3 separate regions of the Homo sapiens genome follow, and all the other regions are linked to region 2. The links come from fine-mapping of genetic effects on gene expression. A gene starts in region 2. Each other region holds a variant in brackets. All regions are shown on one strand. Distances are between the middles of the regions. Region 1 holds the start of LOC105376418 (a long non-coding RNA gene). Region 2 holds the start of CCDC3 (coiled-coil domain containing 3). Region 3 has its middle 120 kb from the start of MIR548Q.

Evidence for each region.
Region 1: its variant is fine-mapped to the expression of CCDC3 in fibroblasts (GTEx, PIP above 0.99).
Region 3: its variant is fine-mapped to the expression of CCDC3 in whole blood (TOPMed, PIP 0.99).

Annotation. Positions count from the first base shown.
Region 1 is chr10:12,898,915-12,909,163 of GRCh38, reverse strand. All of the region lies in intron 2 of CCDC3 (coiled-coil domain containing 3), which reads left to right. It overlaps LOC105376418 (a long non-coding RNA gene), which reads right to left and starts at 1,365. Exons shown (of 3, transcript XR_001747367.3): 1 at 1,273-1,365; 2 at 761-815. The variant C/G (reference allele first, on the strand shown) is at 4,125.
Region 2 is chr10:12,997,491-13,007,887 of GRCh38, reverse strand. CCDC3 (coiled-coil domain containing 3) reads left to right here and starts at 6,175. Exons shown (of 3, transcript NM_031455.4): 1 at 6,175-6,691; 2 at 9,376-9,550. The coding sequence starts at 6,318. RefSeq lists enhancers at 6,045-6,545, 6,546-7,046.
Region 3 is chr10:12,844,066-12,854,462 of GRCh38, reverse strand. No RefSeq gene overlaps it. Among named protein-coding and RNA genes, the nearest start is that of MIR548Q, 120 kb to the right of the region's middle. RefSeq lists an enhancer at 4,807-5,306. The variant C/A (reference allele first, on the strand shown) is at 4,963.

The DNA of each region.
Region 1 (10,249 bases), 99 kb after region 2:
TAAGGACTGAGGTGCCCAAGGAGGCTTTGACTAAACAAGCAGAGGCATCCAAGGTTGGAAGATGTCTTTCAGATGCTGTAACTCACAGGACCATGAGTGTCCAAGGATACCAGGAAGATGGAGCCTTGCATCTAGACCAGAGCCCCATCCACTGTGATGTGGATTTTCTGGGATCCTGAAAATAAAAGTAGAACATCTTCCTTCCCACTACACCTGGACACCTTCTCTGCACTCACCATGGACAGTGGTCAGCATTAAGAAATCACAGTTCTGGCCAGGCGCCGTGGTCCACACCTGTAAACCCAAGCACTTTGGGAGGCCAAGGCGGATGGACCACGAGGTCAGGAGTTTGAAACCAGCCTGGCCAACACAGTGAAACCCTGTCTCTGCTAAAAATACAAAAAGTAGCCGGGCATGGTGGCATGCACTTGTAGTTCCAGCTACTTGGGAGGCTGAGGCAGGAGAATTGCTTGAACCTGGGAGCCGAGATCACACCTCTGCACTCCAGCATAGGCAACAGAGGGAAACTCTGTCTCAAAAAAAAAAAAAAAGAAAAATCACAGTTCTTAGCCAAGAATCTGTGATTTCAGCACCCTTCTACCCCTTGGTAGTTCTAGAAAAAGGATTTAGAGTTGAAATCAGTATTCCATGACCTAGTGTTTCCCAGGCTTCTTTGTATCACAGACTAGATAAAATGTTTGCAAAACTCCCTGGGAGAAACACAGGAGACCGCTCGTAACTGAGCAGCCTTGACACTCACTCTTGTAGTCTATTCTTGCTGCATGTTGGAGATCTCCACCAGAGACCGATGAGATCTGGGGTAAAACAAAGTTAGAGAGGTTTAATGCAGGACCAATGTGCACAGCTGATACTAAGTGTTACATCACAGAGGAAGCCATAATATGCAGCATTTCTGAAACTTTTTTAACCAGAACCACCCTTTTGGTCCCCACGTAAACATCTAATGAGACGAGTGTCCTGGAGACTCCATTTTGGGAAACCTTTGTAGTAGATTTATCTGAAGACGTGGCTTTATGATCTCTGTAGTAGAACTTAGCTAATAAACTCCCCTTTCCTCTGATGGCAGGCAATTCACCCAAGACAGCTCAATGTTTCCTGATTTTAATCATGGGCCATCAGCAGGACTTAACCCCTGGCCATTTAAGATCTTGTCCCCCTGCTTCCCACATCCAGCTGCTACTGCGCTCCAACTCTCAGCAGGGCTGGCCCTGGCCCCAGCTTCTGAAATGTGATCCCTTCTCCTGCACTTACCCAGGTTTTCCATCATCTAGCATCTCCCCTCTAGAATGGATTTTTCCTCATCTGCGTCACATCCTGCAATTCTTAAGGGATTTGGTATGGGGATGTACAAAATAAGCTAGTCAACAGGGGGCGGGCAGGTGGGGGCAGGGAGAAAAGGAAAGTAAGGAAAAGGCACCAAGTTCAGGGCTCCTTAAATCCAGCTCCCAGATCTTACCAGAACAAATCGTCAAAACTAATCTTCTTTTTTCTTTTTCTTTGAGACAGAGTCTTGCTCTGTCACCCAGGCTGGAGTGCAGTGGTGCGATCTCAGCTCACTGCCAACTCCTCCTCTCGGGTCAAGCGATTCTCCTGCCTCAGCCTCCCGCGTAGCTGGGAGTATAGGTGTGCACCACCACACCTGGCTAATTTTTCTATTTTTAGTAGAGATGGGGTTTTGCCATGTTGGCCAGGCTGGTCTCAAACTCCTGACCTCAAGTGATCCTCCCACCTCAGCCTCCCAAAGTGCTGGGATTACAGGCGTGAGCCACTGCACCCGGCAAAACTAACTTTATTCCTGGGAAATGGGGCTTCACAGGGAAGATGGTGAATCCAGCTCCAGCATTAAAAGGTAGCTCCAGCTTCTTCACCGGTTTTTCATTTTCGAGTCATTGAAAATGACTTGCTTCTATTTCAACCTGCATCCCTTCATCCATTTATTAAGTGCTTACTGCATGCTAAGTGCTGGATGCAAGAATGAAAAGATGGAGCCCTTGTGTTCAAGGGACTCAGTCTGGGAGAGAGTCAGGCTAGCCAACAGTTAGAGCCCCATGCGATAAACTTGACAATGGAACCAGGAAAAGATGACAGGGCTCTTCCTTATAGGAAGACTTCAGGAGGAACCAGGAAGGCATCACAGAGGAGGTGACTCTTGAACCAAGACTTGGAGAAGAAGTAGAATGTCATCGTTTGGTTAAGGTGTGAGCAGAGATTTAGTGGAAGGAATTAGATGCAAAAAATCACAGACACTCAAGAGGACCTAGGATGCTGAGGGAGGAGGAGTTCCAGCAGCAAAGGTCAAGCTCGGGCGAACGACAATCACAAAAGCTTTGTGTGTCCTTCACCCTACACCAGGTGCTACATCAGATGCTTTACCCTTATCATCTGATTTCATCTTCAGAGCAGTTCTAGGGAAGAGGCTTTATTAGGCCCATTGTATACATGAGGAGACTGAGCCAAGACAGGTTCATTGACTTAAGCAAGACCCCACTGTCCGATGGTGGGGCTGAGTGGGCTCCCTGACCTGTGGACTCTAACAGGTATCTGGGTACGTGGAGTGTGGAATCGTTTAAGCCAGAATTCAGTCCCAGAGTTACCTGAGTCCAAAACCCCTTCCTACCCACACTGCCCGGCTACCTCCTCCCCCGGCAGCATCAGGAAGCGGACGCAGGAGAGGCTGCTGTGGCCCTGCCCAGCTAGGCCGGGTGCTGCCTCATGGAAAGGAAACTCCTGCCCCAGCCTCTTCCCTGACTCCATCTCCGCCTTCCTCTTCATTTGCCTCCCCTCCCGCCACAGCCTGGGCATGAGCGTTCCCTTTGTTTGGGCTCCTGGCACCAGGGAAGCAGCTCTTTTGACTTTGGGTGGAGCAGAGAACGAGCTGCCAAGCCACATGCAGTCATCTCAGGTTGTCCCTCCAGACAGTCCTCAGAAGAACTTCCCTGCTGTCACTTCCCAGCTTTGGGAGTTTTTTCAGCAGCTCTGGGCATCCTCCAGTGTGGTCCTGTCGAGTCATTCAGGAAACCGTTCTGCGTGGACGTGGCTCTCTGCCCACCTCCTCATAGATCTCTATCTCTAAAGGCTTTTAAAGAATGGGAGAACAAAGCTGCATTTCCAACCTGTTTATGGAAAACGCCAAAAGGCACTACGGAGGACGTGGGTAAAGGCCCATGGGCTTCCCATCAAGCTCCCCAGAGTCCCTGAATCATGTGGATAATGAAGGAATCTTGGCCTCTGCCCTCTACGGGGCCAGAAAACACAGCGCCATGTAAACTTTTCAGAATTAACCGGCCAACTGCGGGACTAGAGCAATCCCCTGCAGACCCTTATCCACACTGACAGTTGATGTTCCCAAGCAGGGCACAGGGGCTTGCTCTAGGCTCATCTGTCCAATGTCAAGGGATGCATTTTAGAAACAGTCAGTCGTGCTGGGAAGAGCTGGTTTGTTAATTTCCACCTGGAGGTTTGAAATTGGCTGCAGTACATTGAGATGGAGTCAATAGGACCTTTGACAAGGATCGTGGAGACCTTGAACCATGACCTGGCAGCCAAAGCCATCATCACAAAACAATGTCTGAAAGTGGTGGGAAAGGGGTGAGATGTGGACAGTGAGGTTCTTGGGCGTCTCTGGCACCAGGTGTTTTTTTCAAACCCTTTGCCCTTCATCCATTCTTTGCCTGTAGACCAGCTGCCCTCCAAACCCATCCTATTCCCACCTGCGTTTGCCTTGAGCCCCTCTTGAGGTTAAGATTCAGCATCTTTTCCTTGTAAAGGGCCAGATTTTAGGTTTTGTGGAAGCAGCCGTTGCAGCTACTCACCTCTGCCATTGCAGCACAACAGCTGCCACAAACAAAACATAAACTGATGAGTATAGCTGTGGTCTAATAAAACTTTATTCACAAAAACAGGCAGGGGGCCAGATGTGGCCCATAGGCCATCGTTTCCTGATCACTGCTCTGGGTTTTCTTTTTTCTTCCTTCTCATTTTTGAATCCCGAGAACAGGAACAAAGTGTTAAAAAAGCAAGCTATTTGTCTGTGTTGTTGCTTTTGGACTGTTCTTCCTTTATATTTTTACGTTTCAGAAAGTACACTTTGTCTTGTCTTTATA[C/G]GTGGTTATTTAAATTAAAAGCAGCTGTGAAAGGCAAGAATCCTCTCGGTGACTCTTTGGCATGTCTGGTGCCATGAGATATTTTTTTAAAAAAACATACTGTCTTTTTGTTTAGCTTGATACAAACTTGCTATATTCCAGAATAACTGGGGGGGACTTTCTGCACCATACAGTGCCAGGCACACAATAAATGCTTCTTGCCAGAATGAATGAACATATGGAAGCCAAAACGCTTTGGAAATGAGAGGTGATTCTAGATGGTATCATGGATATACTTCCTTAACTGCTCAAGATGTTGATGGTGAAACTTTCTCACACCTGAGCTTCCCGGAGAAACCAGGAAACTTATAGGAAGACTTCAGGTGGAGGCTCCGGGTAAAGAGCTCTCCACGGATTTGTCCCGTCACTGGAGACAGGTGACCCAAAAAGGCCACATTAAGGCCACTCAATCTCATGGATGCATGAGCACCCCATCTTGCCATCCCTCCCCATTGGCCTGTGGTCCTAAGGATAGAGGAGGATTAATAACTAGTGAGCCTGAGCCAGTCTTTTTTTTTTTTTTTTTTTTTTTAAGACTGGCTTTTGCTCTGTAACTTAGGCTGGAGTGTAGTGGTGCAATCATGGCTCACAGCAGCCTCCACCTCCCAGGCTCAAGTGATCCTCTAGCTTCAGCCTCCCAAGTAGCTGGGACCACAGATGTGCACCACTATGCCGGGCTATTTTTTATTTTTATTTTTTAGAGATGGGGTCTCCCTGTGTTTCCCAGGCTGGTCTCAAACTCCTAGGCTCACGCAGTCCTCCCACCTCAGCCTCGCAAAGTGCTGGGATTACAGGCGAGAGCCACCATGCCCGGCCTAGTGAGCCAGTCTTGCCTAGTGAGTTAGTCCTCGTGGCCAAGTGGAACCACCAGATGCTCCCTCCTCCAGCTCCCATGAAATACTCACGGGAAGTGTACAGACCGATGACTGGAAAAGAATCATGATAAAATGAAAAGGGGAAAAAATTAGAACAGAAAACTGAGTAACAGCAGGACTCCAGTTTTCTTTGAAATAGTTATCTATTTATACCCGTAGGAACAATACTAGGAAGAAATGTTACAATGTCCACAGTGATTATCTCTGTACCATAGAATCATTGATGATTTTGATTTTCCTTTTGTTGGTCCCATATTTTTAAAAAATGTTTTTTCTACAATCAGTGTGCTTTGATGGTTTTAAAAAGTGTTATTTTAGACAGATAAGGAAGTATGGATATCCCAGCCTAACTTTTGTCTTTTCGAAAATAAAAGAGCAGGCTCCCAGGGCAATCTTCCCATCTGCCCTTAGGCAGGCATCCTATTGGCCACATGGAAACTTCCAGAGAAAAGCTCTGGGCAGGCAAATGCCAGAGGTACCCAAGCACCTGGGAGGCGCTGAGTGCTGCAGGCCTGAGCGGGGCCTGCCTATGAGGAGTCTGTTGCTTTGGGGCTGCCCTGTAGGACATTCTCTTTGGTTCTTCTTCAAAGAAAATATGGCAGTACCTGTTTCAGCTTGGCCTGGCCTTTCCCTGCTCTTCTCAGTTTACCAAAAAATACCACAAAGCAAATTGAGCAAATAGCGTATCTGGACCTTTTTTTCTTTTTAAAGCAGTTTTAAAAGGAGATGGATTTCATTTGGAAAGCATTCCAAAGAAAGCATTTCTTAAAGAAACACACATTTTGGAAAGCACAGCTCTCCTCTAGAAATTCTTGCTTTCTTAAACACAGGATTTTCTTTTGAGGTGATAGCTGGGATGCCAGAGGGCTCCATCGGCTCCATCAGCAGTGGCTTGGTTATTTTATGGCGTTAGCCTCAATTCACATGACACAGGCTCCCCCTACTCAGAGGCATGGCCCACTTTGCTGCAGAGATACAGACCTGCCTGCTAAGCAGTCCTGGGTCATGGCTGTGCTATGTTGGTTGTCTTGGATACGTTACTAGAGTCCTTTGATGTCTTTTGCTCCTACTGAAACCCTACCCATATTAGAGGCCACGAGGACCAAAGAATGACATGTTCACCAAGGAACTCTCATCCCATCCACGCTTTTCACATTCACCTTTGCTTGGGAATTTATCATTCCCATCTCAATGATCCTCCCACTCCGGATACACACACAGATGCACTTCAAGGCGTCCCTCTGTTCCATCTTGGTTTTTACAGCCTGGGTCAAGGTCTTCCTTTTGTCTGGGCTCTAAGTCTTGCTGGAGGTGAAATTCATCCTCTTGCTAGCCTGGAGAACAGCTGTGTCCATGGTCGAGGGCTAACTGTGAAGAGTGTTGTGTCTTAGAAAGAACTCTTAACACGTGATCACTCAAGTCCCAGCATCCTCCTCTATTTTTCACGATTTTTAAACGCAGCTTCTGAACACCGCCATCGAGCCTGCCTTCAACTCTTCTTTGATGTTATGTTCCAGCCACTATTGGGTTCTGTTCTTTGAAAATTCGAGCAAGCAGTCTTCCAAAACCCCAATCCTCTTGTTGTCATGGACTTTGGACTTTTTTGTCTTGTTCTTGGTTGAAGAATCTACCATAACTTGTAGAAAACTCATGACTTAATGAGGGAGTGTCATTATACAGTGCTCAGCCTGGTACTTGGCCATATTAAAGCCTAAGTTCCATAGCTAATATCTATCCACAAGACAATAGAAATACTGTCAGTTCTCCCGGGAATTTCTCATGCCCACCTTCTCATCTTTTTGAGGGGGTCTCATTTTGGCCAGAAGAGGGCAGTGTTGCACATATGGTCTCCCCTGTAACAGCAGCTTCCCCGGGAGCCCAGAGTTTCTCATTAAATGACAGGTATTATTGGAACATTCCACTTGGCTCCTTTTTCTTAACTGTAGGCCTAAAAAGGCCAGGGCAGCAAGGATGCAAAAACCATTGTGAACCAGGCCTTCAGGAGCTTGTGACTTGTGAATGTCAAGGCCCTTGAGTCACATTCTCCTAGTGCCACCAGGTACTTGGCGTGTGGTGTGAATAGCTACGGCGTGCCATGGAGACTGGGGAGGGGGACACATTACATACACAGGGAGACCCGGTGGAAAGCATCGTGAAAGGGGACCACAGAGGGCTTCCAAGATGGCCAGGCGGAGATGGGGAGAACAGTGCTCCAGGCGGGAGGAAGAGCCTCTGGGATGAGAAAGCGCTGATGTGTTGGAGGAAGAGCTGGGTGGGACCCAGTGTGCCTTGGGTATAAAATGTGGGAACAGAAGGAAGAACACTAAGACTGGAGATGTTGGCCGGGTCCAATCACAAAAGTTAAAGGCTTTAGGAGATTTGACTCTATCCTATAATCACGGCTAACAGTTAGTGAACGTTTACTGTGCACGAGGGCATGGTTCTAAACATTTTTCAAGTAAAACTCATGAAATCCTCCCAACAACCATGATCATCCCACTGAGAGTGGCCAGGTTCCCTGAGACGTAGACTTTGGAATAAGAGGTGCAGGTGGGCCAGGTGCAGTGACTTACGCCTGTACTCCCAGCACTTTGGGAGGCCGAGGCGGGCAGATCACGAGGTCAGGAAATCGAGACCATCCTGGCCAATATGGTGAAACCCCATCTCTACAAAAAATACCAAAAAATGAGCCGGGCTTGGTGGCTCGTGCCTGTAGTCCCAGCTACTACTCAGGAGGCTGAGGCAGGAGAATCGCTTGAACCCGTGAGGTGGAGGATTGCAGTGAGCCAAGATCACGCCACTGCACTCCAGCCTGGCGACACAGCAAGACTCCATCTCAAAAAAAGAAAAGAAAAGAAAAAATAATGTAAGAGGTATAGGTGGTGTTTTCAAGAATGCTCCTGGGATTAATACCTTGGGTAGAAAAGAACAAGAACAGGCGGAGGCAGACATCAGCCTGTGATCCAGTCTCAACAAAGGCTGTAGCCTACCCCAGGACACCCAGCAATGGGGACCGCCCTTCAGAGATCTTCCAAGTTGGGATGAGGGGCCTTGGTCTTCATACCCTGGTGTCAGCCAGTCCTTGGATACAGGTGCTCCAAAGAAGGGGGCGTGACCTTGGGCAGTTCTCTTAGGTCAGGGTCAGTTTCCGGAGAGAGACTCAGCTTAGGGCTATCGGCTATCGGTCTGCAGCACTCCAAGAAGCTGGGGAAATCAATCCTTTAGTACTGAAGTGGGTTCTGGCTAATACAGACCAGAGTCCACTACTCTGAGCCTAGGAAGCTTGCCCAAGGTCTCAGGTCACTCGTCAGTGGAAGAGGCAGGACTGGAAACCAAAGCAGCCTGGCCTCAGGGTCTGAGCTCTTCACCCATCACCATCATATTGCAGTGTAGATAGTGGGGCTCGATGGAGTTTGTTTTTTTTTTTTTTTTTTTGAGATGGAGTGTCTCTTTGTCACCCAGGCTGGAGTGCAGTGGCGCGATCTCGGCTCACTGCAAGCTCCGCCTCCCAGGTTCACGCCATTCTCCTGCCTCAGCCTCCCGAGTAGCTGGGACTACAGGCACCCGCCACGACGCCCGGCTTTTTTTTTTTTTTTTTTTTTTGTATTTTTAGTAGAAATGGGGTTTCACCCTGTTAGCCAGGATGGTCTCGATCTCCTGACCTTGTGATCCGCCCACCTCAGCCTCCTAAAGTGCTGGGATTACAGGCGTGAGCCACCACACCCAGCCCGGCTCAATGATGGAGATTTCTAAGCAGAGGAAAGTTGAGGCTCAAGTCTTTCTTTGGGAATGTAGCTTCTGATGAGGTAAAATGGGAGAAAGGAGAAAGATTGGAGAATACCTCTTTTTATATATATGCTCACACACACATATAAAGGAAATGCCAGCCTTATTACTGTATTAATCCGTTCTCACACTGCTAATAAAGACATACCTGAGACTGGGTAACTTATAAAGGAAAGGTTTAATGGACTCACAATTCCACATGCCTGGGGAGGTCTCACAATCATGGTGGAGGTGAATAGGCTCAAAGTCATGTCTGACATGATGGCAGGCAATAGAGTGTTCAGGGGAACTGCCCTTTCTAAAACCATCCGATCTCTTGAGACTTATTCACTATTAGAAGAACAGCACAGGAAAAACCCACCTTCATGATTTCATTACTTCCCACTGGGTCCCTCCCATGACACATGGAGATTATAAGAGCTAGAATTCAAGATGAGATTTGGGTGGGGACACAGCCAAACCTATGAAATACAAAATTCAAAAAGTACAAAAGTGAAAATGAATCTTCTTCTTCCTGTCTTCTCTGCTCCCCGGATATGGCCACCCTTACCCGTTTCTTGCATATGCTCCCAGAGATAGTGTATGCATATTTAAACGGACACAGATGGGTACCGTATTTCGCACTCTTGGTATCACACTATACACACTGTTCTGCACAGCTTTTCAATATGAACACCACTTAGACATTGCTACACCACCATTCACACGGAGCTGTCTTGTTCCTTTAAAAACGGCAAACCTTTGCATTGTGTAGATTTACTATAATTTATGGAACCAGACCTCTCTTGATGGGTATTTTTTGTTCCCAATCTTTTAATATAATAATGCCATAATGTTTGCACATGTGGCAGCTTGCACATATGAGAGTATTTATCTGAGATAGTCCCAGAATTACTAGATCAAAGGGTATATGCAGTTATTTTGACAGAGCCAGATTGGTCTTTATAGATGTCAACACTCTACTGACAGTATGATAGCACCTGTTTTCCCAAATCCTGACTCTGAAATTTTGCCAATCTAATATGTGAAAAATAGTAATTCACCATGGCTTTCATTTGTTTTTTTTATGTTATTATGAGTGGGGTTAAGCATCTTTTCATGCGTTTAAGAGATACTGGCGTTTTCTTTCCTGTGAACTATCCACCTTCTGTGTGCTGGCCAGCCCAGCTAAAGGGAGCAAAGAGAGTCTGTTTTTGCTGAAGGGAACCCCTCCCTTCAGTTGGACAGGCCAGCATTGATCAGAGCCTTCGCGAATGTAAGTGGCTCAGCCTTTGTTAATTAGGCCACCTGACTCCCCCCATTCCCGGAACTGTCCACCTTCTGTGTGCATTTCTGGTTTTGGTCTTCTACCAAAGCGGGGCTCTTTCCTTTTTGCTACGCATGACAAATATTCAGAATATCATTTGAAAACGACATCTTCCAAGG
Region 2 (10,397 bases):
AACTTGTTTGGCCCCAGCTAAAGACTTTTAGAGTGGAGTTTTTCAGGAAGAGATAGAGAAGAAGAAAGAAGAAGAACTCACTCATTTATTTTTCATGAATAACTTAAAATATTTTTTACATAACTAAAATATTTTCCACTATTTTGTATTAGGATTTTAAAAAAATTATTTTGGGAAGAAAGGACATATTTGACCATACTTGGTCTATCTTTAAGAGAGGGTAGCTCCATTATTGCTTCAGAAGTGTCTTTTATAAGGCAATTGTAGTCATAATTAAGTTCAACTAGTGGTATAACCAAGGTAAAAGCTCAGCATGTTCCGGGAGACAGGTACACACTATAATCCAGGAGGAAATAGCCCAGACACTAAAGAAATTGCAAGACTGCCTATATATATCAGCAGACTCCAGGCAGAACCAAAGTGGGCAGAATATAATACTAGTTTTGGCAAAATTTATTGTTTTGATGCGTTTGAGAGTATAAATTTAATATACTTCTAGAGGTGACTCTAATAGCTTACTTGATTGGTTGACTACAATTTGAAGGAATTCCATGCTGGCTGAGATGCCAGAGCTTCCCTGAAACAATGTAAAGGAGGGAATCCAAAGGCTTAGGGAATTAGGAAGGTTGAACTGAATACTCGATGTGTGACCTGCACAGCCACCTGCCAACTACATTCCACAAGATGACCCAGAGGTATTTCCTTCACGACAGCAATGAGAAATATATTAATGAAGGAAGTACTGCATCCTTGAACATCTCTGTGGTTTCTCCTCTTTCTAGAAAAGTTATGACTCTAGTACAGGATGATGCCATCGAAAAGGGGTCAAACGGCAGCACTTAACTGCCAAAGGGAAGGTAAGTACCTCTACCGTAAAGGTCGGGAGGGGCATACTAGTAATCAGAATGTTTCGATTGGCAGAGATCTTTGACAGTGGATAGTTGATCATGATGTCTCTTGAAAGTAAATATGTGGGCAACCTGTGGGTGTAGTGCCTGATCTATGTAACAGCAAAAACTCTGGTAGCTGAAAACCTGACTTGAATTCCCACAGAGAGGAACTGAAGCCCCTTACCTAGCTTTTAGACATAAGTAAATTTATAGACACAGAGCCTTTTGACTGAAAGGTAAGCCAGGTGCCCTTGAGGAAGGACCCTGCACCATTGCCACATGCACACACCATAAATCCTCCTCTAAGACTTCTCCAAAGGGACCAAAGTTGACAACTGACAAACCCCCACATTTTCTCTCTGACCCATGGGTGATGGCTTTTATTGTTGGAAGGACTAAGCAGAAGCTCCTAGAACTTTCATTTCTACCAAGAGAATAAATCAGAAGCAATATTGCATCCCTGAGGGGATTGCAAAAATCCATGCTGCCATCAAAGACTTGAAAGAAGTGGCGATAGTTATCACATCTCCACTGAACTCATCAGTTGGGCTGTGCAAAAGTTGCATGGGTCTTGAAGAATGACTGAAGACTACTATGAACTTAATGAGGTGGTGGCTAAAATTCCAGCTGCTGTCCTAGATGTAGTATCTTTCCTGGAGCAAATTGATATGTCTCCCAGCATTTGCTTCGTAGCTACTGACCTGCCCTTTTCTCCTCACTGATTTGCAAGGATTGCCAGCAACGGTTTGCATTTACCTGTCAGGGCTAACAGTATACTTTCAGTTTTGCCTCAGGCTATGTCAATTCTCCTGCTCTCTATCACATTTATTCTGCAGAGATGTTGATTGTCTTGACGTTCCACAAAACATCACATTGGATTACCTCATGGATGACAGTATGATGAATGGATCTGATGTTCATGAAACACCATATACTTTAGAGGCCTTGGTAAGATATAAGGTGGGAGATAGGCCCCACAAAAATTCAGGGACCTGCCACCTCAGTATGGTTTCTGGGGGCTCAATTGTCACTCCTCCAAGGCAAAAGGAAAGTTGCTGGTCCTTGGATGATCTAAATGGGAAAAGAGGGAGAATGTATGTTCAGCCTTTTTGTATTTAGGAGGGAACATATGCCACATTTAAAAATGCTTTTTGAATTCATCTATAGAGTTATCTCTAAGGCTGCCAGTTTCAAGTGGTGTTGAGCAAGTTCTGAGAAGTCTCTGCAGCAAGTTCAGGCTGTGTACAAGTCACTGTATCACTTGAGCCTTATTATCTAGAAGGTCCAGTGATAAAGTATTTATGGCAAACAGGAATGTTGTATGGAGTCTTTAGAAAGCACCAGAAGGAAAATCACAGCACAAAACTCTGGGGTTTTAGTGCACATCTATGCCTTATTCTGGATATGGCTGTTTGCCTTTTGAAAAATAGCATCTCCCTTGCTACTAGGCTGTGGTAGAGATTGAATGCCTAACCATGGTATGCTGGGTGACTATGTAATCTGAACTTCTCATCATGAATTGGGTGTTGTATGACCCTCCTAGACATAAGGCCATGTGTGCGCAGCAGCAATCTACCATTAAATGGAAATGGTATCCAAGAGACTGGGATTGGGCAGGTCCAGATGGTGCAAGCAAGTTGCATGGGCAAGTGGCTTAGATTCCTTTGACTCTGAAGGTACGTTGCCTCTTCCACTCATATGGTTTATGGCCTCTTGAAGATACTCCAGTTGAATGAGGAAGAAATAACAAGACTGGTTTGAAGATTTTTCTGTATTACACACAGATATTACTCAGTTTCACTCATGGGTGATCCTGAAGGACACTGGTGAAGAAAAATTCTCCCAGTCGATAGAACTTTGAGCAGCAGATTTTGTTGTATGCTATGTCTAGACTAAGAGAGGGCTGGGAGTACACATGGACACTGATTCGTGGGCAGTTGCTAGTGGTTTGGTTGATGGTTAGGGACTTGAAAGAAATAGGATCAGAAGATTGATGACAAGGACATCTTGGGAAGAGGTGAATGAATGGACATCTTATAACGGTTACCAAGTGTGAAGATATTTGTGACCCATGTGAATGATGACCAAAGTGCATTCAGTGGAGGGGAAGTTCTTAGTGATTAGGTGGGCAATTGATGTACTCAGTGGGTGTCTGTCAGTCTCTTTTCTTGGCCACTCTACTGCTTACTCAATGAGCCCATAAACAGAGTGGCCATGGTGGCAGAAACAGAGGGTATTCATTGCCTCAACAATGTGGACTTCCTCTTACCACGGCTGGCCTAGCTAACACTACTACTACTGCTGAGAGCCTAATATGTCAACAATAGAGGCCAACATGGATCCCCTAATGTGGCCCCATTCACCTGGGGAACTAGTCAGCCACCTGGTGGCAGGTTGATTCCATCGGACCTTTTCCATCTTGGGGTGGGGGGTGGGGGTCAGAGATTTGTCCTCACTGAAATAGACACATTCTGGACACGGATATGCCTTCCCTGCCATAATGCTTCTGCCAGTAGCACCATCTATGGACTCATGGGGCACCTTATCCACCATCATGGAATTTCCCATAGTGATGTTTCTGATCAATGATTCCCACAGCATTGCTTCTTTCACAGCAATGAAGTGCAGCAGTGGTCTCAAGGCCATAGAATTAACTGGTTTTACCACATGTCCCATCACCTGGAAGCAACTGGACAAATTTTGAAGGATGTAACAGTTTAGTGAAGACTTAATTATAGTGTCAGTTGGGAGTCACCACACTGAAATGATGGAGTCCATCTTAAAGTGTACTTACTGTGTGTGCTTTGAAACAGAACATACATATACGGTACTATCCACCCCACAGCCAGGACATATAGGTCTCGGAATCAAGAGATGGAAGTGGCTCATGTCACTATTAAACCCAATAATTCACTCACAGAAGTTTTGTTTCCCCTCCTGGCTACCTTGAGCTCTGCTTGTTTGGAAGTCTTAGTCCCCAAAGAGGAACTGCTCACTACGGTACACTGCAATGGCTCAATCAGGAAGAGAAACCCAATCAGTGAGGCACTCTGCCAGATCTTACAGGGGAGAAAAGCATGACTGATGTGTCTGCTGAATCCATGAGGACGATTTCTTGCAGGTGCTCACTTCTGCAAAATACACTGTGGGAAGTATTGGAAGAGTTTTGATTCTGTCAAGTTTATACAACAAGAGAAAAAACAGCCATGTTTGCTGATTTTTATTTATTTGCTCACCTATGTGGAAAGAAAAGAGAGGGCCTTACAGTCTTTTGGGGTAGACAAATCTTTTCCAGGCCTTCAAGACACTTGAAGATGCAGTTAGTAAGAAAAACTTTCTTACTATCTTATCTGATGAGTTACAGTATAGGACTAAAATAGAGCAGGGATTCTGGGTCATACAAAATTAATGTTAGGTCAGTTGCACACTCCTTGAGCCATCATTGGTGACTCTGCTAAGGTTTTCTCTTAATTTGCTCTGTGTATATCCTGGTTAAAGGGCCGACCTGTGTCTTTAGAGCATTTCCTATATTTGGCCCTATTCTAGTGTTGTAGTTAAGTACATGGATCTGGAGTCTGATTGCTGGGAGCTGAATCCTAGCTTGGTCAACTTGTAGCTTTGTGATCTTTGGTGTCAATTAACTTCTCTGTGCCTGTTATCTGTAAAATGAGGATAATAGTTATATCTACTTCAGAATATTGTTTGGAGAATTTATTAAGATGACATATGTACAGTCCTTACAACAGTGATTGGCCCATGGTCAACAATGACTAAGGTTTAGCAATTCTTATTATAACTTGGCAGTGTGTGCTGTGAGTCTGCCTGCCAGGAATATAAACCATTTGGGATCCCTGCTCTCTTTCTCTAGCAAACCTGCAGAACACCTGCTAAATAGCTCATATAGACTGAATTATGTCTCCCCTCCCACCTCCAAATTCATATGTTGAAGTGCTAACTCCCTAATGTGACTGTATTTGGAAATAGGGTCTTCAGGCAGGTAATTAAATGAGGACATAAGGGTGGGGTGATAACCCCATAGGACTAGTGACCTTGTTAGAAGAGGAAGAGACCAGGGCTCACTCTTTCTCCATCACACACAGAGAGAAGGCCACGTGAGGACACAGTGAGAAGGTGGCCGTCTGTAAGCCAGGAAGAGAGGCCTCACCAGTAACCAACCCTAGCACTTTAATCTTGGACTTCCTGCCTCCAAAACTCTGAGAAAGTAAGGTCTGTTATTTAAGCCACCAGACTAGAGTATTTTATTATGGCAGCCCTGGGAGACTAATAGCATTATGAAATTGCATAATTTAAATATTCAGGGTGGATGTGGGGGCTCACGCCTGAAAGTTCAGCACTTTGGGAGGCTGAGGTGGGAGGATCGATTGAGCCCAGGAGTTTGAGACCAGCCTGAGCAACATAGCCTGTCTCTACTAAAAACAAAAAATTATCCGGGGTGGCAGTGTGCTTGTATTCCCAGCTACTTGGGAGACTGACCTGGGAGGATCACCTGAGCCCAGGGGAGGTCGAGGCTGCAGTGAGCCCTGATGGAGCCACTGTACTCCAGCCTGGGTGACAGATATAGACCTTGTCTCAAGAAAAAAACAAAAAACAAAACAAAAAACCTGTTGCCTTTAGAGATAAAGATGGAACTGTGGAGTCAGTATCCTCAAATTCACTCACTGATGTGAAAAGCTGTTTGGGATTTACTTCTGAATGTATTTCTCAGGTGTACAGTGTTTAGAAAATGGAATCAGGGATTATGGAAACCAAGAAAATCAGGGCCAAATGATTGCTTTTTGGAATCTTTTATCAAAGCTTTTCTAAGATCTTCATTAAATAACTAGCAAATCTGAGAGAGCACGAGATCTCAGCCCACACTGAATTTCCTAATCTCTGGGAATATAAAGTCAGATTTGGTTTCTATGTATTTTTACTCTGAAATGTAGAGAAAATGTAAAAACTTAGGCAGTAATCGTGCAAATTAAGAGTCATTCTTTAATGAATGCCTTGCGTTTGCAAACAGGCTTTACGCCTGGCAAGCTCGGACCACGTCCATCGTGGGGCGCCAGGAGATTGCTGGGCCACTGTCCCCAATTCAGGGCTGGGTCCCGGCGTCCCCGCGTTCTCCGAGTCCCTGGTCCCCGCCCCAGCCGGCGCCGGGACCCGCCCGACTCCCCGCCCCTCCCCCGCCCACGCCCCAGCCGCAGGGGGCAGGGCGGGAGGCGGGCGCCCGGCGCGTCCAGTCCCCGGGACCCTTTTAAAGCGTGGCGCGCCAGGGCCGGGCATGCCGAGCCCCGTGGCGGAGACAGCGGTGCGCTCAGCTCCCGGGAGCGGCCCGAGCAGCCGAGCGCCCAGGGCTGCCCTTCCCGGGCCGGCGGGCTCCCCGGGCTCCCCGCCGCCGCCCCGTGCGCCCCGGGAGGGCCCGGCATGCTGCGCCAGCTGCTGCTCGCCGCGCTCTGCCTGGCGGGTCCCCCAGCGCCCGCGCGCGCCTGCCAGCTGCCCTCCGAGTGGAGGCCCCTGAGCGAGGGCTGCCGCGCCGAGCTGGCCGAGACCATCGTGTACGCCAGGGTGCTGGCGCTGCACCCCGAGGCGCCCGGCCTCTACAACCACCTGCCCTGGCAGTACCACGCCGGCCAGGGGGGCCTCTTCTACTCGGCCGAGGTCGAGATGCTGTGCGACCAGGCGTGGGGCAGCATGCTGGAGGTGCCCGCCGGCTCCAGGCTCAACCTCACCGGCCTGGGCTACTTCTCGTGCCACTCCCACACCGTGGTCCAGGACTACTCCTATTTCTTCTTCCTCAGGTGAGCCCGGCGGCGCCGCCGCCACCTCTCTCTCTCTCTGCGCCACCTCCCGAGGTCGCCGTTACCTAGAGCCAGGCCGGTAACTCCCCGGGCAGCCTGTCGGTGTCAAGTGAGAATGCCCCTGGGGCGCCTACCCCTTGCCTTCTTGGATCTTTCTTGCTCCGTCTGACGTCTCTACAGACATCCTGACTACCCCTGGTTAAGGCGGTTTAAAAGACAGGGAAGGTTTCTGTGCCTTGTACACAGAAGAGCATTGCAGACAGAAGCTCAAAGCGCCCTCCAACAGTCCCTTTGACTTGGGTTTTTAAACTGGCCTCAGTGGGAGTAGATTGGGACGGTGAGAAAAACAATCTTTGAAATCAGTCTGTGGCTGGCATTTTGGCTCTGCCCTTCCTAACCGTGATTCTGAGCGCATTTCTTGACACCTTCTCAAGAACTTCCATAGCCTCACCTGTGTAAAGTGAGAGACAGGGCTGGTTGAGTGAGGAACGTAACTCATGCAAAGCACCTGGTGCAGGTTAGAAGTTGACCAGCTGTCCACTCTCTCCTCTTCCTCATTTGCTCAAATGCCAAGATGTGAATGGTGTGGAATGTAGCCCGGGATTGCTTCACTGTCTCATATCAGCTGCCAGGTTCTTTGAAATAGCAAAGGTTTACTAGGGCTTGGGGTTCTGCTGCTGGTAAAATCCTGGGTAGCAATGCTTTGAGGAGTGGAGAGGTGAACCAGGCCAGGAGGTCCTCTTTGATTATAGACCACTGGAATCTTCTGAAGTTCCATGAACTTCAGAACTTGGCCTGTGGTCAAGATGGAATGCATCTGCCTAAGAATTCAGTCAATTCTCATTGACTACTGAATTCTTCTGAAATTTGAATAGAGAGTGCCAGGTAGAACTCTAAATTCTTTGGTTAGCTTCAGTTGGAATTTGGAGAGTGATATAAAACAACTGAGAAAAACATCAAAATGGAATCTAACCTATCTATCAAGATAGTAAATTAATCCACTGTTGGGGTGATCGGTTGTAGTTCGTTTTCCCAGTCTGGGAAGTAGCACTGAGGATATTTGGAATGAGGCTGACGTGGGTCTGCAGATTCACTTTTAGCTCGCATTTCTCTGAGAAAGAAAACAGTTCTACAAAGTGGTGTTTGTAAGTGCATGGCAACACATGTTTTCCATATTGAAGCCAGAATATCTAAGTTTAAAAAACACGTCTTGCTTTGTGTTGGCTTGAGTGGTTCAGCTAGATTAAGTTTTTATATATATGTATGTATTTCCAGAGAAGTGTAGTTTCTAAATAAAGCCAGTGAGACTGAGAGAGTGCCCTTCTCGATACAGAGAAACTTAGGGTTTCATGTTTTTAATTAGGAAAGATACTGAGAAACCATCTATAAAACTATTCAAAACCAGAACTTTGTTCTCCAAAGGAAAAAGAGCCCAAGTGTTTGAGCAGGCTTTTTAAAGAAATTTTTATCATGAAATACAGTTTGTCCAATAGTTCCGTGGTGCTCAGCCAATTCTCATCTTTTTTGCTCTACCATGTTTACAAAAGTTAGGGCAGAAATACAAAGACAGTAGTCTGACATTTTCATTTCACAGGGCTGTCTTGCCTTGGAGTGTGTTAACAACTACACACAAATCATTCCTTCTCTGTTATTCTGGGACCCACTGAGATGAAACTGGACCTGTGGTCACTGTCAGGGGTGAGGGTGGCAACGGAGACTTGCTGGTGAGCCCTACGTGTTTTCTGTAGACTGGAGTGTAACTTTCATCTCTTTCTTTTTGTGACATTTTAAAGAATCATTCTAATTGATTAATGCTAGGCCTTTAAATGTGTTCACTAACATGCATACTGCATTTACTTTGTACCAAGTGCTTCATTTACTTAGGTTTTTGATGCAATGCTTATGACATCACCAGAAAAGTAGGTACTATTTTTTACTTATATATGTTCTTTTTTTGAGATGGCGTCTCACTCTTGTCACCCAGGCTGGAGTGCAATGGTGCAATCTCTGCTCACTGCATCCTCCGCCTCCTAGGTTCAAGTGATTCTCCTGCCTCAGCCTTCTGAGTAACTGGGATTACAGGTGTGTGCCACCGTGCCCAGCTAATTTTTGTATTTTTAGTAGAGACAGGGTTTCACTGTGTTGGCCAGGCTGGTCTCGAACTCCTGACCTTAGGTGATCCACCTGCCTTGGCCTCCCAAAGTGCTGGGGTTACAGGTGTGAGCCACCGCACCTAGCCAGTACTATATTCTTTTTGCAGATTAGAATACTGAAGCTTAGAGGAGTTAAGACATTTGTTTCATGTCATACAGAAGATAAATAGCAAAGACAGAACTTAAACATAGGTGATGACAGCTGGCCTTTTTTTCACCAGGAAATAAGGAACACTCTTTGAGAAGGAAGACCCCTTGGGGGACTTGGAAGACAACACAAATAGACAAACAGGCACCATACACATAGTTTTCTCCATACTTTGCTCAAACTCATCTTTTTGAAAACCTTAAGGATAGACTGATGTAGCGTGAGACAAAGAAATAATTAGAAGTAGTAACTCCTCTAATGAGAGCCATGCCAGACATTGATGTGAAATTGGCAAGCCCGTTGCAGTTGTCTGTGACTCTGGATTGGAGCTGGTACACCCTTGACTGTCTAGCCTACATGTCTGCCTTTTTTTCCTCCATTAGGATGGATGAAAATTATAACCTCTTGCCTCACGGAGTCAATTTCCAAGATGCCATCTTCCCAGACACTCAAGAGAACAGAAGGATGTTTTCTAGCCTTTTCCAGTTTTCAAACTGTTCGCAAGGGCAGCAGCTGGCGACTTTCTCCAGTGACTGGGAAATCCAGGAAGACAGTAGGGTAAGAATTGGCTAAATCCTGTGCCACAGCAAAACAATAGTATAGCTACACCTTGTGTGAATTTTGTGACCAAAGGAATCAAGAATACTCTTCCAAAAGCCCAGATCAGAGAGTATTAGCGTATGCCCTCTCTCTCTCCTGCTATCCCTCCTTACCTCCCAGCTGTTAAAAAAGACCATTCATAAACTTTGGATCCCTGAAGCTTTACTGTTGGATAAGGAGTTCTTCCCAAAGTATGAGAACAAGATGAGATGAAGATTGGCATGCTGAGCCTCAGTTTCCTCTTCTACAGAACAGGGACAATAGTAGCATCTATATCAGGCTTGTCCAACCTGCAGCCCAGGACAGTTTGAATGTGGCCCAACACAAATTTGTAAACTTTCTTAGAACATTACGAGATTTTTCTGCAATTTTTTTTTGCTTATCAGCTATCGTTAGTGTTAGTGTATTTTATGTGTGGCCCAAGACAATTCTTCTTCCAATGGGGCCCAAAAGATTGGACACCCCTGATCTATGTCAGAGGGCTAATGCAATATGATTTAAATATGTAAAAACTATAATTATGTAAATCCGTTAGCGTAATGCTTAAAAGAGTAAGTGCTCAATACATGTGAGCCGTTACGACTGTTCCTGACTGTGTATGATTGTCATGGACAGCACAGGGCCCTAAGAAATTGTCTTAGAGGAAAGGAAAAGTGCTGAGGGAAATGAAATGAAATTGCTATCATAGCTACCACTTCTGTGATTCTTAACTATAGTTGGTAAGACATAGAGGTGCAGGATGGCCAAGGTGGTTGCAAAATGTAAGGGTCGGGATCGTAAGGGTTGGGAATGAAAATATAAAAGA
Region 3 (10,397 bases), 150 kb after region 2:
GTTTGAGGAGCTGGAGACTAGCCTGGGCAACACAGGGAGAGCCCATCTCAACAATAGAATACAAAAAAACTAGCTGGGCATGGTGGCGCCCACCTGTAGTCCCAACTACTCAAGAGGCTGAGGCAGGAGGATCACTTGAGCCCAGGAGTTCAAGGCTGCAGTGAGCTATGATTGTGCCACTGCACTCAGCCTGGGGGATAGAGTGAGACCCTGTTTGTCTTTATTTTTATTATTATTATTTTTTGAGACAGAGTCTCACTCTGTCCCCCAGGCTGGAGTGCAGCGGCATAATCTTTGTTCACTGCAACTTCTGCCTCCCGGTTTCAAGTGATTCTCGTGCTTCAGCCTCCCAAGTAGCTAGGATTACAGGCAAGTGCCACCATGCCTAGCTTCCTATCTCTCTTTAAAAAAAAAAAAAAGGCTGCATAGTATTCCATGGTGTAAATGTGCATGAAGCTGGAAACCATCATTCTCAGCAAACTATCGCAAGGACAAAAAACCAAACACCGCATGTTCTCACTCATAGCTGGGAATTGAACAATGAGAACACTTGGACACAGGAAGGGGAACATCACACACTGGGGCCTGTTGTGGGGTTGGGGGATGGGGGAGGGACAGCATTAGGAGATATACCTAATGTAAATGACGAGTTAACGGGTGCAGCACACCAACATGGCACATGTATACATATGTAACAAACCTGCACATTGTGCACATGTACCCTAGAACTTAAAGTATAATAAAATATATATATATATAAAAGAAATAAACATGAAAATACATACATATATATATTAAAAAAAAAAAAAAAGGCCAGGCACAGTGGCTCACACCTATAATCCCAGCACTTTGGGAGGCCAAGACGGGTAGATCACGAGGTCAGGAGATCAAGACCATCCTGGCTAACATGGTGAAACCCCGTCTCTACTAAAAATACAAAAAAAAACCATAGCCAGGCATGGTAGCGGGCACCTGTAGTCCCAGCTACTCGGGAGGGTGAGGCAGGAGAATGGCATGAATCCGGGAGTCGGAGCTTGCAGTGAGCTGAGATAGCGCCACTGCACTCCAGCCTGGGTGAAAGAGCGAGACTCCGTCAAAAAAAAAAGTTGTGGCCAGGTGCGGTGGCTCATGCCTGTAATTATAGCACTTTGGGAGGCCGATGTAGGCAGATCACCTGAGGTCAGGAGTTCAAGACCAACATGGTGCACCTCTGTCTCTACTAAAAATACAAGATTAGCCTGGTGTGGTGGCGGGTGCCTGTGATCCCAGCTACTTGGGAGGCTGAGGCAAAAGAATTGCTTGAACCTGGGAGGTGGAGGTTGCAGTGAACCGAGATGGTGCCATTGCACTCCAGCCAGGGCAACAAGAGCAAAACTCCATCTCAAAAAAAGACTTCTACATGCAGACGACTTCACTGGGTCAGCAGCTGGGTGAGGTGTTGGGTGCTCTCCTGCTAGAAGAACTGAGAAACCACGCAGGTCCATTATAGACTCCCCTGGGGAGCCACACACTCTGATCTCACAGATGTTCCTAATTTAGATTTTCCTTTTCTTAGGCAATACTTGTGCACATGTTTGAGATGAGTAAGAAGAGCATCTCCTCTTCTTCTGTAGGATGTAGTAGACATATGTTGCTCAAAATTCTTTCCCTTAGAAAACCACCCACACCCTGGTCTATTACAATGCTGACTATGTGATCTGGGGATTGGTTCCAGGTCCCACCCCCTCCCCACCACAGACACCAAAATTCAAGGATACTCAAGTCTCTGATGTAAGATGACATAGTATTTGCATATAACCTACACACATACTCCTGTATGCCTTAAATCATCTCTAGATTACTTACAATACCTAATACAATGCCTACACATCTCTTCATTCACATGGATTCAATGTAGTACTCAGTGTGTACAAATTCAAGTTTTGCTTTTTGGAACTTTGTGGAATTCCTTCCCCCCCAAATATTTTAATTTGTTTTTTTTTGAGATGGAGTTTCGCTCTTGTTGCCCAAGCTAGAGTGCAATGGTGTGATAACGGCTCACTGCAACCTCCGCCTCCTGGGTTCATGCCATTCTTCTGCCTCAGCCTCCCAAGTAGCTGGGATTACAGGCGCACACCACCATGCCTGGCTAAGCTTTTTGTATTTTTAGCAGAAATGGGGTTTCACCATGTTAGCCAGGCTGGTCTCGAACTCCTGACCTCAGGTGATCCGCCCGCCTTGGCCTCCCAAAGTGCTGAGATTACAGGCGTGAGCCACCGCACCCAGCTCTCCCCCAAATATGTTCAATCAGCAGTTGGTTGAATTCAGGGATGCGGAATCCATGGATATGGGAGATCTACTGTACCCAATTTCCTTGGGCACAGTGGTTCAGGAGTAGACATGTGACTCAAGCCAGAAAAACCAGTCTTCCCTGTTTTTGTAGGAGAGATTTTCTCTCTTCTACTGGGGTCATAAGCCCTTAGAGCCTTGTGGCCTGAGCCACTAGAGGCCTTCTTGCCGTATATTTGGAAAGACCTGGATGGCGAAAAGAAGAACTAAGAGATGAAGAGAGATCCCTGGATACATCTAAATACAGCCTAAATACATGGACTTTTCAGTGATGTAAACCAATAAATTTATTTTCTCCACTTTGAGTTTGAGTAGGGTTTTTGTCACATGTAACAAAATAATATTATTCTGATTAACATATCTATTACAGTCACCAGATTTATCAAATAAAAATATAGAATGCCTAGTTAAATTTAAATAATGTTTTAGTATAAGTATATCCCACATATTGCATGGGATATGCTAAAAAATTTCATTGATTATTTTCAAATCATATTTAACTTGGCACCCTGTATTAGTTATCTGACAACCCTATCTGGGATACATAATTTCTGTCAACAGTGTTTTAAAATTCCCTGCTCAACTATTCACAATAGCAACAAAGACATGGAATCAACCTAGGTGTCCATCAATGGTAGACTGGATAGAGGAAGTGTGGTATATATACACCATGGAATACTACGCAGCCATAAGAAAGAATGAAATCATGCCCTTTGCGGCAACATGGATGCAGCTGAAGGCCATTATCCTAAACAAATTAACACACGAACAGAAAACCAAACACTGCATGTTCTCACTTTTAAGTAGGAGCTAAATCTTGGGTACATGTGGACATAAAGATGGGAACAGCAGATACTAGGGACTTCAAAAGGAGAGAGGGAGGTCAGGGCTGAAAAATCTCCTACCGGGTACAGTGTTTGCCACCTGGGTGACGGGATCAACAGAACCTCAGTATCACACAATTTACCCTTGTAACAAACCTACACATGTACCCCCTTGAATGTAAAATAAAAATAACAATTTAAAAAAGAAAGAAATCAGGAGTGGCTAGTTTTTCAACATATTCTCAATTCTATCATTCTATATTTTAAAGTTAATTAAAATAATTTTTTTTTTTTTTTTTTGAGATGGAGTCACGCTCTGTCACCCAGGCTAGAGTGCAGTGGTGCGATCTCGGCTCACTGCAAGCTCCGCCTCCCAGGTTCACACCATTCTCCGGCCTCAGCCTCCCGAGTAACTGGTACTACAGGCGCCCACCACCACGCCCGGCTAATTTTTTTTTTGTATTTTTAGTAGAGACGGGGTTTCACCGTGTTAGCCAGGATGGTCTCGATCTCCTGACCTCGTGACCCACCCGCCTTGGCCTCCCAAAGTGTTGGGATTACAGGCGTGAGCCACCGCGCCCGGCCAGATAAATTTTGTTTTATAATTTAAAATAAAATTCCCTGCTTAGAAGACAGCAATCAGCAGGTGGATTTTCCCTTAAAGAACATGGAGAAAAAACAAAGACAGTTTCTGCAGAGCCATAGACAGAAACATCCTAATTAAATCTTTCTTCTCCAGGTCATTCCCGCTTTGAATAAGCCAGATGAGGAAGGTGGGCGCTCTAGGGTCAGGCTATTTAGTCCTCGTCAGATGTATAAATACTTCAGTGACCAGTGGTATCCATTTTTGCTGTACATTAGAATCACCTGCAGAAGCTTAGATATTCCAATGTCCAGGGCGCACCCAGACAGATACAATCAGAACCAGGGGACCACACAGGCGATTCCAGTGTGCAGCCAAGGCTGATACCACTGAGCTAAGCCCTTGAGAAGACTCAGCCAAATTGGAGGAGTTAAAACAAGAAATGAGAAGGGTCCTCCCCTCACCACCTCTCCTCCCTCCCGAACTGGGAGCAGATGGGAAGTAGCGCACAGGTAGGCTGGCTGCTGGGCCACCTTGCTAACCCTGCCACAGGGCTGTGGGCCTTAGCTTCAGGTTTGCCTTCACATAGCCATGTAGCTGGCAGGTGTTTGGGCCACAGAGAAGCAGACAAGGAGGCTCCCTGAGCTCATGGTTGGTGCCAGAATAAACACAGCATCTGGCAGGTTGAATGTGAGTTTCATGCCTGAGCTCAGCTCAGCACAGGGTTCCAGAGCAAAGATGAATTCCCACCAGGAAGCATGGGGGGAAGGAGGGAGGGAGGGATGGGCGAGGCACGGTGGGGAGAATGTGTGCTAGATGGCTTTCTGTGATAACCATGAACAGCTTCTCTTTCTGCTCTCACCAGCCCGCCGCTCAGGCCTGAGAGATCTGCCAGAACACATCCCTCCTGGAGCCAGGTCCTGATTCACGGCTTTTCATTACTGCGTTTCATTCTCAGAGGAATAGACCCTCCTCAGGGCCTCAAAATCACCAACAAGTCTCGAGAGGTTGGCAGGAAGTGCCTCCTCTCCCACGCCTCTCCTTGCCCGCACAGCCTCTGTTCCAGCTCGCCCTCCCCCTTGCTCACCACCATCATGTCCCCGGTGTGCAGGTCAGCACTAGCTAACTATCTCTTGGAGGAATTACTGAGCCAGTGAATGGAACAGGGGCAGCGGCTCTTAACCAGCAGCCCCTGTCAGTCCCAGATCCCGGATGAAGACACCGGAT[C/A]CCCCCAAACCCTGCGTGTTCTTAATTGGGTCCCCAAAGCCCCCGGCGTTCTGCTAGGCATCCTGAATGCACACAATCAGCCGGCTGAAAGGAAACATCTGCAAGTCTTTCTGATTAAATCGACTTGGAACTCTGCCCCTTGAAGCGGTTATAAAGACTGCTAGTGGCCAGGCATGGCCAAACCTCAAGACTGGTCTGTCCTGGTGTGGGGTGGGCTTCACTGATGCTCAGGCAAGGTCCAGGACAGGCTGGCAGAATCCTGTCCCCGGTGGTGCTAAGTGGGTTCCAGCCATTTCCCAGAAGCCACTGTGGCTCTTCAATGCTAGGATGGGAGGCTCAGCTCAGAACCAAGACCTTTTCAAGTTTAAGGCCTTGAGTGGTCAGCAGGGGAGCAGAGCTTAGACAAAGGGAACAGGAGCTGCAGCTGGGACAGCCAGCACCCACACACCTGGGCTTTGGAAAGAAGTGCCCAGAGGTGAGCGGCATTGGGGGGGATCAGCTGTCTTCATCCATGATCTGGGACTGGCAGAGGCCGGCCGGGTAAGAGCCGCTGCCACCATTCCATCCCCTGACTCAGTAATTCATCCAAAAAATAGTTACCCAATGCTGACCTGTACGTGGGGGACACGATGATGGTGGGCAAAATTGTCACGGTCCCTGCTGCCGTGCCCCTCCCATTCCCACTCCACTATTTAGATTTGTAGCCAAACAGCCAGGGTGAGAAGGGGACAAGAGAACACCTGTTCTTCCTGAACAGGGAAATTAACCTGAAATGATTCCCTAGCACATTCGCTCCACGTGGGAATCTGTGGGAGGACGCTTTTAAGAGCATCACAAGCTAATTCACAGCTATTTTAGGAAACTTTCAAAACCATCTCATTTCCCCTAAGAAAGACTGGTTCACACCCCTTTGTCTCTGGGGTGTGGGGGTGTCTTGCTCTGATCTAACCAAGGTTAATGTCTACAGTCTTCCCCCCTGCAGTGGAGGGGATCACTACTAAAGGGAGGCCCTGCCAGAGAATAGACTCATCTTTCTCTCTCTTTTTTTTTTTTTTTTTGAGGCAGAGTCTTGCTCTGTTGCCCAGGCTGGAGTGCAGCAGCGCGGTCTGGCTCACTGCAACCTCCATCTCCTGGGTTCAAGTGATCCTCCTGCCTCAGCCTCCCAAGTAGCTGGGATTATAGATGCCCGCCACCACACCCAGCTAATTTTTGTATTTTCAGTAGAAACGGGGTTTCGCCATGTTGGCCAGGCTGGTCTCGAACTCCTGACCTCAAGTGATCTGCCCACCTCAGCCTCCCAAAGGGCTGGGATTACAGGTGTGAGCCACTGCGCCCGCCTGTCTTTTTAAGACAATAGAAGTTAGTAGGGGCCAGGAGATCACCTTGGAATCACAGAAATTAGATTTCCTCAAACCAGATGATGGGGAGAAGCCATGGTGGCCTGAAAGAAATGGCCACCCGGTCTTACCTTACAGGTGCAGATTCTGCTGGAACCAGCCCTACTGGGCACTCCTGAGCCGCTTGTCCCTGCTACAGCTGTGACACTGGTAGCTCCAGTCACAGAGGGACTTCCGTTCCATGAGGAGCCTCAGTGGGCGTGCTAGGTGCCAACAGCCCATGCCGAGGGGCTGCTTCCCTGGCTTCACCTGCTTCCAGCCCTCATCTTCAGCCAGAAACTCAGCTGCGCCTCTACCCTAAGACTGGTCTCCCGTTGGAGTGTCCTCCTGCCAGCGGGGGGCGCTGTGGGACCCACGAGAACCGCTCCTCCTTGGCTTGACTGCTCCGTCCGTCCCCAGAGAGGATGAGACTGAAAGAAACTTAACCCAAAGGTGCCATGACATTAGGCTGGAAGTGACACTGAGGTGCTGCTATCTGGCTGGGCAGCTAATCTGATCATTAGCTACTCCCTGTAGCTCACCAAAGCCAGCCTCTGCTTAGATCTCACACCCGTTGGTTGCTGTCAGCAAAAGGAGACAGGCTCAAGGAAGACTGGACTCCCAGTTGAGAATGCACACGGGATAGGGCCTCCTTACTCAGGGCATATGGTCTTGGACTAGCAGCGTCTGCATCTCCTGGGAGCTTCTAGAAATGCAGAATGTCAGGCCCCAGCCCAGATCTGTTGAGTCATAATCTGCATTTTATCAAGATACACAGGTATTTTCCATGTAGGTTTAAGTTTAGAAGCACTGCACTAGCGGACATCCTTGCGCCTCAGTTACCCCGCAGATGGGTCTTTTACTGTGTAAGCATTTTATCTGCATCTCTTCATTTTCTCTCCTCATTTCACTTTTTGCCCTAGGAGGTCACAAGCATCAATCGTCATGCAGACTGGAGCTAGAAAAAGATTGACAATTTCACCATGCCTGCCTTAGCATATGGCTCTTAGGTTAGTATAAGGTTGGTCACCAAGTAATAGGTTTGAGTTTTCAAAACAATCACTAAGAGGTCTGGATATTCATTCCTAAGTCCTTTCCCTCCCACTAGGGGAGTGTCTTCAAGGCATCTTGGTTATGGTCTAGGGTTGTGGAGTGGTTGCCAGGGTTGCCTAATCCCTAAGTATCCCAAGTCTTATCTGAGGATTGATGAAATATATCACATACAAGCCAGACACAGTGGCATGTGCCTGTAATCCCAGCCTCTTGGGAGACAGAGGCAGGAAGATAGCTTGAGTCCAGAAGTTCAAGACGAGCCTGGGCAACATAGCAAGACCCCATCTCTAAAAAAAAAATTGAAAGAAACACAGAAATATATCACATGCATGTATTACTATTACTCAATTATTACAGAGATACAGATGCACTTTAATAATTCATTTTGAAAACTTTTTGCAGTGTCTTTTGTTAGTTCCAATCACTAAGATGCTGTGTTCCATGGAAAGGGGCCATATTCATCAAGAATTTGAGAACCATGGCTCTAGCGGTCTGAAGCTCCAAGCTCCTAAGACTGCCTAACCAAAACAAAGACACTGGTATATATTTTCCATTCATTTATGAGTTTTCAAAAAATTTAGGTCTTTATTAAGAGTTAAATATAAACATTAACTCATTGTGTTACAGAGAAATAGGGTCTTTGGAGGAACTGTTTGAACATGGGTCACAGTTACTTGTTTATGTAACACGATTTAGAGGGGTACAAAGATCCTTGGCAGGAAGGGTAGGAGGAGGAGATGGAGGAGATGGGAGAGAAGGAAGGAAGCACCTGTGAAATCCCTACCTTCAACCTTGTCAGTTTCCAATTTGCATATGCTCATGTCCCTAATGAAAAGCACCTCCAAAATAGACTTCTTTCATTTAGATATATGTATTTTTGCGTTATGACTTTTTCCATTACAACAGCACAAAACCCAAGAAGGTAGCTGGTGTGGCGATGCACAACTGTATTCTCAGTTATGAGGGAGGCTGAGATGGGAGAATCACTTGAGCCCAGGAGTTCGAGGCTACAGTGATCTATAATTGCACCACTACACTCCAGCCTGGGTGACAGAACAACCTCGTCTCTTAAAAAAAAAAAAATTTAAGTAAACTAGACTTGAAATCAGGTTTTCAAATTGCTGTATTACAAAGTCTTAAATCACGATTAAAAAAATAACAAAACTTGCCTATAATCCCAACTACTCAGGAGGCTGAGGTGGAAGAATCACTTGAACCCAGGAGGCGGAGGTTGCAGTGAGCCGAGACTGCGCCGCTGTACTCAGCCTGCGCGACAGAGTAAGAGTCTGTCTCAAAAAAACAAAGAAACAAACAAACAAAAACATAAAAATAACAAAACCCAAGATGACATGAATGTAACAAAGATAAACATTTTGTTCTACTGAACAGTTTCTTTTATCTTGGTCTTGTCCTTCTAATTTTCTTTCTTTGTGTATGTTTTATATGTTCATAAGTAGGTATAGTATATGCCTATAATTTCCAGAAATATAAATATTCATCTATTCAGAGCACAATGTTCAAAAATATTTTATCATAAGGATGCACAACAAAAACTGTTTAGATATCCCTGAACTAGATTAATACCTCTTACCATCTTTTGTCAACAAATGGGTCAGAAAAGTCCCTTCATTGCCATTATTTACAGCCAGTGTCGTGCTACCAACATTCTCTACGCCTGAGTCATCCTTGTTCATGTTCACATTCGAGCTTGTTCATTTAGCACCAGACTTGGAAAGAAACTGCAGGAAATGTGCATTTCTGGACGACTCGAACAATTTTACCTCACGCTCTTCCCTGCTCCGGGCTGGGATCCAACTCTGAAAAAACCTGAAATTCACAGATTCAAGGGAGACTTTTCTCCATGTTTCTCAGGAAGTAAACAGGGTATGGCTGACACGGCAACACCCTTTTCCAGGCAAAGAGCAAAATGCAGCAGGGGTTTGGACCTCAGTGCAGTTTTCACTGGAACTTGGGCTGTGTCTGGGTGCCAGAGAATTTTAAAGAGCAAGCAGGTACCTCAGGGATCTTGTTGTCAAACCCCTCATTATATGAGTGAGACACAGAAGGACAAAGTTGGAATGAACTATGCAAGATCACATAGCACGCTAGTGGCACATCCGGGACCACCACCCAGTCTCTCCAGTCTCCCCCTCTGTGGCTGATGTGGGGGAGGGACAGCTTGAGGAGCAGGGGGAGTTTCTGGCTTGTGATGAGACATGGCTGGACAATGTCTGGTGGTGTTAGATCCCAGACAGCGTTTCCACAGAACTCTTCCATGCACTCTAACCCAGGTGCCTGTGTGGGGTCTCTGGTGAGAGATTCATGGGGTCCCCCGTCTGGGAAAGGCTGTTTGGTACTGCCTGCCTCTGGAAAGTAGAAAGCTCACTTACAGCTTCTTCAACCTAGAAACAATCTTTGTACAGGATGGTGGTCGCAAAAGTCCAGCTCTTCTAATGGTGTCTACGGCTCCAACATATAGAAAAGGTCTGGAAGACCTGAAGTGAGGTGGGGGATGGGTGTGTGTGTTCCCCACTGCCGTATCCATCCTCAGTGCCTAGGACAGGGCCTGCCTGACACGTAGGAGGTCCTCAGATTTTTTTTTTGAGACAGAGTCTTGCTCTTTCGCCCAGGCTGGAGTGCAGTGGTGTGATTATAGCTCACTGTACCCTTGACCTCCTGGGCTCAAGAGATTCCCCTACCTCAGCCTCTGGAGTAGCTGGGACTACAGGCACCAAACACCACACCTGAATGATTTTTGTATTTTTAGTAGAGTCGGGGTTTCACCATGTTGGCCAGGCTAGTCTTGAACTCCTGGCTTCAGGTGATCTGCTCACCTCTGCCTCCCAAAGTGCCAGGATTACAGGCGAGAGCCACTGCACCTGGCCAGGTGTTTTTTTGTTTTGTTTGTTTTGCTTTGTTTTTAAGAGACAGGATCTCGTCGTGTTGCCCAGGCTGGAGTGCAGTGGTATGATCATAGCTCACTGCAGCCTCGACCTCCTGGGCTGA